2 linked regions of the Homo sapiens genome follow. The main gene of each other region encodes a partner of the protein of the gene in region 2 in a complex. Each region holds a gene or a part of one and is shown on either strand. Other genes may lie near its edges.

Evidence for each region.
Region 1: WRAP53 (region 2) and GAR1 share a complex: the UniProt entries of both Homo sapiens proteins name them as parts of the telomerase holoenzyme complex.

What each region holds. Positions count from the first base shown.
Region 1 is NC_000004.12:109,818,612-109,822,361, reverse strand, and holds part of GAR1 (H/ACA ribonucleoprotein complex subunit 1), read right to left. Parts: intron 3,362-3,750; coding exon 3,302-3,361; intron 16-3,301; coding exon 1-15. UniProt on the Homo sapiens protein: Required for ribosome biogenesis and telomere maintenance. Part of the H/ACA small nucleolar ribonucleoprotein (H/ACA snoRNP) complex, which catalyzes pseudouridylation of rRNA.
Region 2 is NC_000017.11:7,686,531-7,690,280, reverse strand, and holds the start of WRAP53 (telomerase Cajal body protein 1), read right to left. Parts: upstream 1,805-3,750; 5' UTR 1,720-1,804; exon of another isoform or gene 1,634-1,719; 5' UTR 1,633-1,633; coding exon 1,202-1,632; intron 1,058-1,201; coding exon 959-1,057; intron 692-958; coding exon 580-691; intron 1-579. UniProt on the Homo sapiens protein: RNA chaperone that plays a key role in telomere maintenance and RNA localization to Cajal bodies. Specifically recognizes and binds the Cajal body box (CAB box) present in both small Cajal body RNAs (scaRNAs) and telomerase RNA template component (TERC).

The DNA of each region.
Region 1 (3,750 bases), on a different chromosome or scaffold from region 2:
TGGGTCTATATAAAACTGGAAACATAATAGAAGCAATTAGTATACAACTTGGGGGACAGTATAATATAATCATTAAGAAGCTACATGATAGAGTCAAAACTGCCTGGGTTCAAACCCCAATCCTACCACTTTCTACTACATATCCCTGGGTAGAGACTTAATTTCTTACTAACTTAGGTTTCTTTTTTTTTTTTTTTTTTTTTTTTACCTTAAGTTCTGGGATACATGTGCAGAACGTGCAGGTTTGTTACATAGGTACACATGTGCCATGGTGGTTTGCTGCACCTATCAACCCATCATCTAGGTTTTAAGCCCCGTATGCATCGGGTATTTGCCCTATTGCTCTCCCTCCCCTTCCCCCCATCCCCCGACAGGCCCAGGTATGTGATGTTTCCCTCCCTGTGTCCATGTGTTCTCACTGTTCAACTCTCACTTACGAGTGAGAACATGTGGTGTTTGGTTTTCTATTCCTGTGTTAGTTTACCTTAGTTTCCTTATCTGTAAAATGTAGAGAATAGAGTATCTATCTCACATGTTTGTGTGATGATCAAAAAAGTGATGTATATAAGGCACTTGTACTTTGGCACACAATAAGCATTACATGCATATTAAAAAATCAAGACCAATTCAATATCATTTCTCTTTAGAAATAGATTATTTAACATTTCCACTCAACAGAACTGCCGTAAGAAAAATAAAACTATTAAAAAACACAGCATTAAAATTCAAAATAAAGCATTCGCATACTAGTTGTTTCAAGTCTTTAATAAAGGATCAAAAGGGTATCTTCTGAACACACAAAGTAATGAAGGATATACAGAAACTATACCCATCCTATAATTGGGGTTAAAGAGGACATTTCTCAAATAATGAGATGTAAAGAGCATATTGTATCATAGTTCTTCTACATAAAACACACGAGGATTTCAAAACTGTAATATATGACTTATAATAAGATCTCTGAATCCCTCTCTAGATATCACCTTATTACTCATCTTCCCTTCACAGCCCATCATCTCAAAAATATTGTCTAGATCTACATTGTTCAATATGGCAGCCACCAGCCACAGGTGGCTTATATTTACATTAATTAATGTTTAAAAATTCAGTTCCTGAGTCACATGAGCCACACTTCACGTGCTCAATAGCTACATGTGGCTAAGAGCTACTTTACTGGGCAGGGATTCCCATCACTACAAAAAGTTCAAGTGGAGAGCACTGGTCTACAAACTTCACAATAACGCAGGCTGGGTAAGGAGGGCTGAATCTCAACATAGCAGGGGGTATGGAAACCGGGAGAGGTAGAATGTACTCAAGTTAGTATCTGTAATTAAAAAGCAAAAACCCAAAAAACTAAACAATAAGCCCCCAAATAAATAATTCTGAGAAATTTAAGTGATTTAAGGGATTCTGATGAATTTAAGTGGCTATTACCAGCATTTTTTTTTCAGGTCACAAGATGAGAATCCCTTTTCAGCATTGTTTCTTTCTGGGCTCAACAGCTCCAGGCACGCCAGAAGCAGTCAATCCCCTGAGTACTTGCCAAGGTTTCTACAACTAGTAGCCATATGCTGACAACAAGCTATTGTCTCCCTCTCATTTCCTAATCCATTCTGGCTCCCGGGCCCACCAATGCACTGGCTCCATGACTCCCTGATGTCTATGTGGCTGTCTTCCAATGAACACTTTGCAGCCTTTTGCCATAGCTGAGCAGTCCCTCCTGGAAACACTCTTTCAATTTTTGTGATACCACTTTTATGACAGGCTTGTGGTTTGCCTTTTTTTTTTTAACTGGCAATTACTTCTGAGTTTCCACTACCAGACCTTTAGTTTTAGGAGGTGCCCCAAAACTCTTCATAGGTGCTCTTTTCCTTTCATTCTTTCTTCCTACAATGTTTCATGTACTGTCTGTATACTTAACAAATTCCCAATTCTATTTCCAGTCTAGACTCTTCCTTTAAACTGACCATGACTGTCTCACAAGTACCTCAACCTCACTATGTCCAAAACCCAACTCATTATCTTCCCCCAATCCCCCTCCTCTGCATTGTTGCCCATTTCATTAATTGGTACCATCACCCACAAAGATGTTGATGTCAGACATCTGAAAGATGGTGATTTTTTTACTTCTTCAATTTCAATAGCTAGTCAATTACCAAGTCCTATTGATTCTACTTCCTGTATCTTTCATAAATCCATTTTTTCCATTTCCACTGTCACTACCGAGTCCAAAATACCATCTCTTTTAGAACTACTATTATAGCCTCCTATCTGGCCCCTCTCACACAATATTGACCGCTTCCCAAGGTGCCTTTTTATCTTCCCAGTATTCTTTTGAAGCATTCATTTAACTGTGTTATCCCATTATTCAAAAATAAAACACAATTGAAACTAAGGTCTAAACTCTTTCCTGTCACCTGAAGGCTTAAGTTAATCAAGCCCCCTCCTACCTCTCTGGTCTTAATTCACAACTTTCCCCACCTCTCCTAAATGTTTCATTCCTAACCTATATGTCTGCCTTTTTGTATCCTTTCAGTTGCCTGCTCTCAGAGACTGCACATACTGTTTTCTCTACTTGGAATGCACTTTCCTCTTCCTCTTTGACTAGCTCAGCAGCTCTCAAGTGTTTGACTAACTACATCAAAATTATCCAAGTGCTTTTCCTTTTTAAAATTGAATCCTGGACGCTACTTAAGAGCTCCTAGGTCAAATTTCCAGAAGTGGAAACTAGAGATACATCTTCTTAAAAGCTCCCCAAGATAACTCTGACATGCAACCAGGTGTGGAAATCACTGTTAGTCAACAATCAGGCCTCAGCTTCAAGCTCACTTTTTCAGGAAACACTACAGACTTAAAAAGCTGGTGGCACTACAAAGCTTCTCATGGCAACCTGTATTTTTCCTTCATAGCATATATCATGTTATTGAAGTTCTTGTGAAATCACTTAGTACCTACCGCCTCTCAAATAACGTAAGTTTTACAAATTAAGATTCTACCTAGAATGTTTGGTCATGAAAGCTTTTCAATAAGAGAGTTTTACATAAACAAAAAACTCTTACTCTAGCAGTTTACAGATTTTGGTAATATGAGCAAAAGTTGTAATTTTTACTTTCTAAAGGCTGTATCAAATAAATCACTTTTAAAGATTAGTGTGTTCAATATTTATAGCATGGAACATTTCAATTTAAGAGCTTTACTAGTGATATGTTGGGAAAGTCTCAAGTGCTCCAAGTAGGACTTTCCTAAGATAGGTCGTTCCCTTATAAAACCAAGGATCCCAAGTATCATAAGTTTGACTCACCTTCTGTAGTTTTTTAAAGGATGAAGCCTTCATGTTTTCTGACAACTTAACTGAAAAATACTATTATTTTCATTAAGGAACAAATGAGCAATTAAGATGAAAGATGATATCAAATGTTCTGAATTCATGTATAATTTCAAAAACAAGGTTAGAATGTATGGATATATATAGGAAAGATAAGAAATGAATTTCCAGGGGCTGGGCGTGGTGGCTCACACCTGCAAACCCAGCACTTCGGGGGGCCAAGGCGGATGGATCACTTGAGGCCAGGAGTTTGAGACCATCCTGGCCAACATGGTGAAACCCCACCTCCACCAAAAATACAAAAATCAGCCGGGCATGGTGGCGCTCACCTGTAATCTCAGCTACTTGAAAGGCTGAGGCACGAGAATTGCTCGAACCCAGGAGGCGGAGGTTGTAGTGAGATGAGATCGTGCCACTGCACTCCA
Region 2 (3,750 bases):
ATATATCAGTAGTCAATCAATAAATAGCTATAAGCCAGGCACGGTGACTCACACCTGTGATCCCCGCACTTTGGGAGGCCAAGGTGGGCGGATCCTCTGAGGTCAGGAATTTGATATCAGCCTGCCCAACATGGCGAAACCCCGTCTCTACTAAAACTATAAAAATTAGTCGAGTGTGATGGCGTGCGCCTGTAATACCAGCTACTTGTGAGGCTGAGGCAGGAGAATCGCTTGAACCCGGGAGGCAGAGGTTGCAGTGAGCCGAGATCACACCACAGCACTCCAGCCTGGGTGACAGAGCAAGACCTTGTCTCAAAAAAATAAGAAATAGAAATATATATATGCTGCCACAAGAAATTCACTACTTTTTAGCAAAAAACACAGATTCCTAATTAAAGAAAGGGGAAACCTCTCTCTAAATAACTTCAGAATTCGGGGCAGAAAACGCTACATGTGGAAACTCGTCTTGAAAAACAGTCCCGTTTGTGAACAGGAAACACTTGGACTACACTTTTTCCATCTCCACGAAGGACTTAAATGTGCAGCATTGATGAAGAGGCAGTTAGCCCCAGTCCTTACCATTTCTGCATATTCCACCTGCTCCCCCTCATGGTACAGCTCTGGGGGCAGGTTATAAATTCGCAAGATGTTATCAGCACTATTGGTCAAGATGCAGGAACCGTCAGGAGCCCTAGAAACAGGGGAGAGTTAGAAAGCTGGCCAGACCTATGCTTTTCAAGTGTAGGGCTAGGGCTGAGCCTGCCTCTGGGGTAGGTAAGCCCCCCTGAATCCTTGAGGGAAGTAGAAGACACAAACTGCTAGATAAAATGTAAGCTCAGTCTAAAAGGGCTACGTGCCGCTTCTCCCAGCTCTGGGGCATCCCTCTCCTAGAAAACTGGACTGTTTTACAGTGAAAATCTCGGGGGTGGTCAGCTCCCTGCCCCGTTGTTATCCTTACCACTTACAGCCTTTCAAGAAGTTCTCAGGTTGGGTGCTGAACTCTGACCAGGAACCACTGAGAAATCGAGGCAGCTGGGAGAAGCTGTAGTTCCAAGCGCTGAAAGGAAGATGGGGGACAATAAACCTGGGTCGCCAAGCAAAGGGGGCAGAGGCCTGGAGAAGTGGGTCTCAGGACCAGAGGACAGATCGACCTCACACTTCATCTCCCCAGACTCCACACTCCACTGCCATCACCACTTACGTGTCTCCCTCGTCCTCTGCAGCGGGTTCCCCAGAGGTATCTTCCATGGCTTTTCCAGACCCCAACTCTGGCCCGTTCGCTTCTTCTTCAGAAAGGCTCCCGTTTGCTTCTTCTGCAGGAAGGCTTGTATTTTCAGAAAGTTCTTGCTCCTCGATTCGAGGACTCAACTCACTAGGGGAACCAAACTCTGTTTCCAGGGGAGTGGAGAGAGAAACTGGGTCCCCCTCCCGTAGCTCCTGGGACACAGCTGAGCCAGCCACAGGATCTGGGGACAACCGGGGCGGATCCCCCCTTTCGGGAGGCGGTGGCATCAGTTCAGAGTCCGCATTTTTATTCATCGGGGAAGCGTGGGGAGAAGGATGGGCTGGAGCTGGGTCCTGGTCTGAAGGACAGCAGTCCGGAGCTAACGGTTGAGTCTCCAAAGTCTTCATACTGCAGAGGAAGCACAGCGGAGATTAGCCTCAGCCAGGATGGCTTCGAAGTTCTCAGGGATCCGACGCAGAGCTAAAGAAACCCACCTGTGCTTCCCTCCTCTTCTGGGAGTAGGCAGAAGACTCCCGGGAGGAGAGGCGAACAGCGGACGCCAATTCTTTTGAAAGCACTGTGTTCCTTAGCACCGCGGGTCGCTACGGGCCTCTTGCTGTCGCGGGATTTCGGTCCACCTTCCGATTGGGCCGCCGCATCCCGGATCAGATTTCGCGGGCGACCCACGGAACCCGCGGAGCCGGGACGTGAAAGGTTAGAAGGTTTCCCGTTCCCATCAAGCCCTAGGGCTCCTCGTGGCTGCTGGGAGTTGTAGTCTGAACGCTTCTATCTTGGCGAGAAGCGCCTACGCTCCCCCTACCGAGTCCCGCGGTAATTCTTAAAGCACCTGCACCGCCCCCCCGCCGCCTGCAGAGGGCGCAGCAGGTCTTGCACCTCTTCTGCATCTCATTCTCCAGGCTTCAGACCTGTCTCCCTCATTCAAAAAATATTTATTATCGAGCTCTTACTTGCTACCCAGCACTGATATAGGCACTCAGGAATACAACAATGAATAAGATAGTAGAAAAATTCTATATCCTCATAAGGCTTACGTTTCCATGTACTGAAAGCAATGAACAAATAAATCTTATCAGAGTGATAAGGGTTGTGAAGGAGATTAAATAAGATGGTGTGATATAAAGTATCTGGGAGAAAACGTTAGGGTGTGATATTACGGAAAGCCTTCCTAAAAAATGACATTTTAACTGATGAGAAGAAAGGATCCAGCTGAGAGCAAACGCAAAAGCTTTCTTCCTTCCACCCTTCATATTTGACACAATGCAGGATTCCTCCAAAATGATTTCCACCAATTCTGCCCTCACAGCTCTGGCTTGCAGAATTTTCCACCCCAAAATGTTAGTATCTACGGCACCAGGTCGGCGAGAATCCTGACTCTGCACCCTCCTCCCCAACTCCATTTCCTTTGCTTCCTCCGGCAGGCGGATTACTTGCCCTTACTTGTCATGGCGACTGTCCAGCTTTGTGCCAGGAGCCTCGCAGGGGTTGATGGGATTGGGGTTTTCCCCTCCCATGTGCTCAAGACTGGCGCTAAAAGTTTTGAGCTTCTCAAAAGTCTAGAGCCACCGTCCAGGGAGCAGGTAGCTGCTGGGCTCCGGGGACACTTTGCGTTCGGGCTGGGAGCGTGCTTTCCACGACGGTGACACGCTTCCCTGGATTGGGTAAGCTCCTGACTGAACTTGATGAGTCCTCTCTGAGTCACGGGCTCTCGGCTCCGTGTATTTTCAGCTCGGGAAAATCGCTGGGGCTGGGGGTGGGGCAGTGGGGACTTAGCGAGTTTGGGGGTGAGTGGGATGGAAGCTTGGCTAGAGGGATCATCATAGGAGTTGCATTGTTGGGAGACCTGGGTGTAGATGATGGGGATGTTAGGACCATCCGAACTCAAAGTTGAACGCCTAGGCAGAGGAGTGGAGCTTTGGGGAACCTTGAGCCGGCCTAAAGCGTACTTCTTTGCACATCCACCCGGTGCTGGGCGTAGGGAATCCCTGAAATAAAAGATGCACAAAGCATTGAGGTCTGAGACTTTTGGATCTCGAAACATTGAGAACTCATAGCTGTATATTTTAGAGCCCATGGCATCCTAGTGAAAACTGGGGCTCCATTCCGAAATGATCATTTGGGGGTGATCCGGGGAGCCCAAGCTGCTAAGGTCCCACAACTTCCGGACCTTTGTCCTTCCTGGAGCGATCTTTCCAGGCAGCCCCCGGCTCCGCTAGATGGAGAAAATCCAATTGAAGGCTGTCAGTCGTGGAAGTGAGAAGTGCTAAACCAGGGGTTTGCCCGCCAGGCCGAGGAGGACCGTCGCAATCTGAGAGGCCCGGCAGCCCTGTTATTGTTTGGCTCCACATTTACATTTCTGCCTCTTGCAGCAGCATTTCCGGTTTCTTTTTGCCGGAGCAGCTCACTATTCACCCGATGAGAGGGGAGGAGAGAGAGAGAAAATGTCCTTTAGGCCGGTTCCTCTTACTTGGCAGAGGGAGGCTGCTATTCTCCGCCTGCATTTCTTT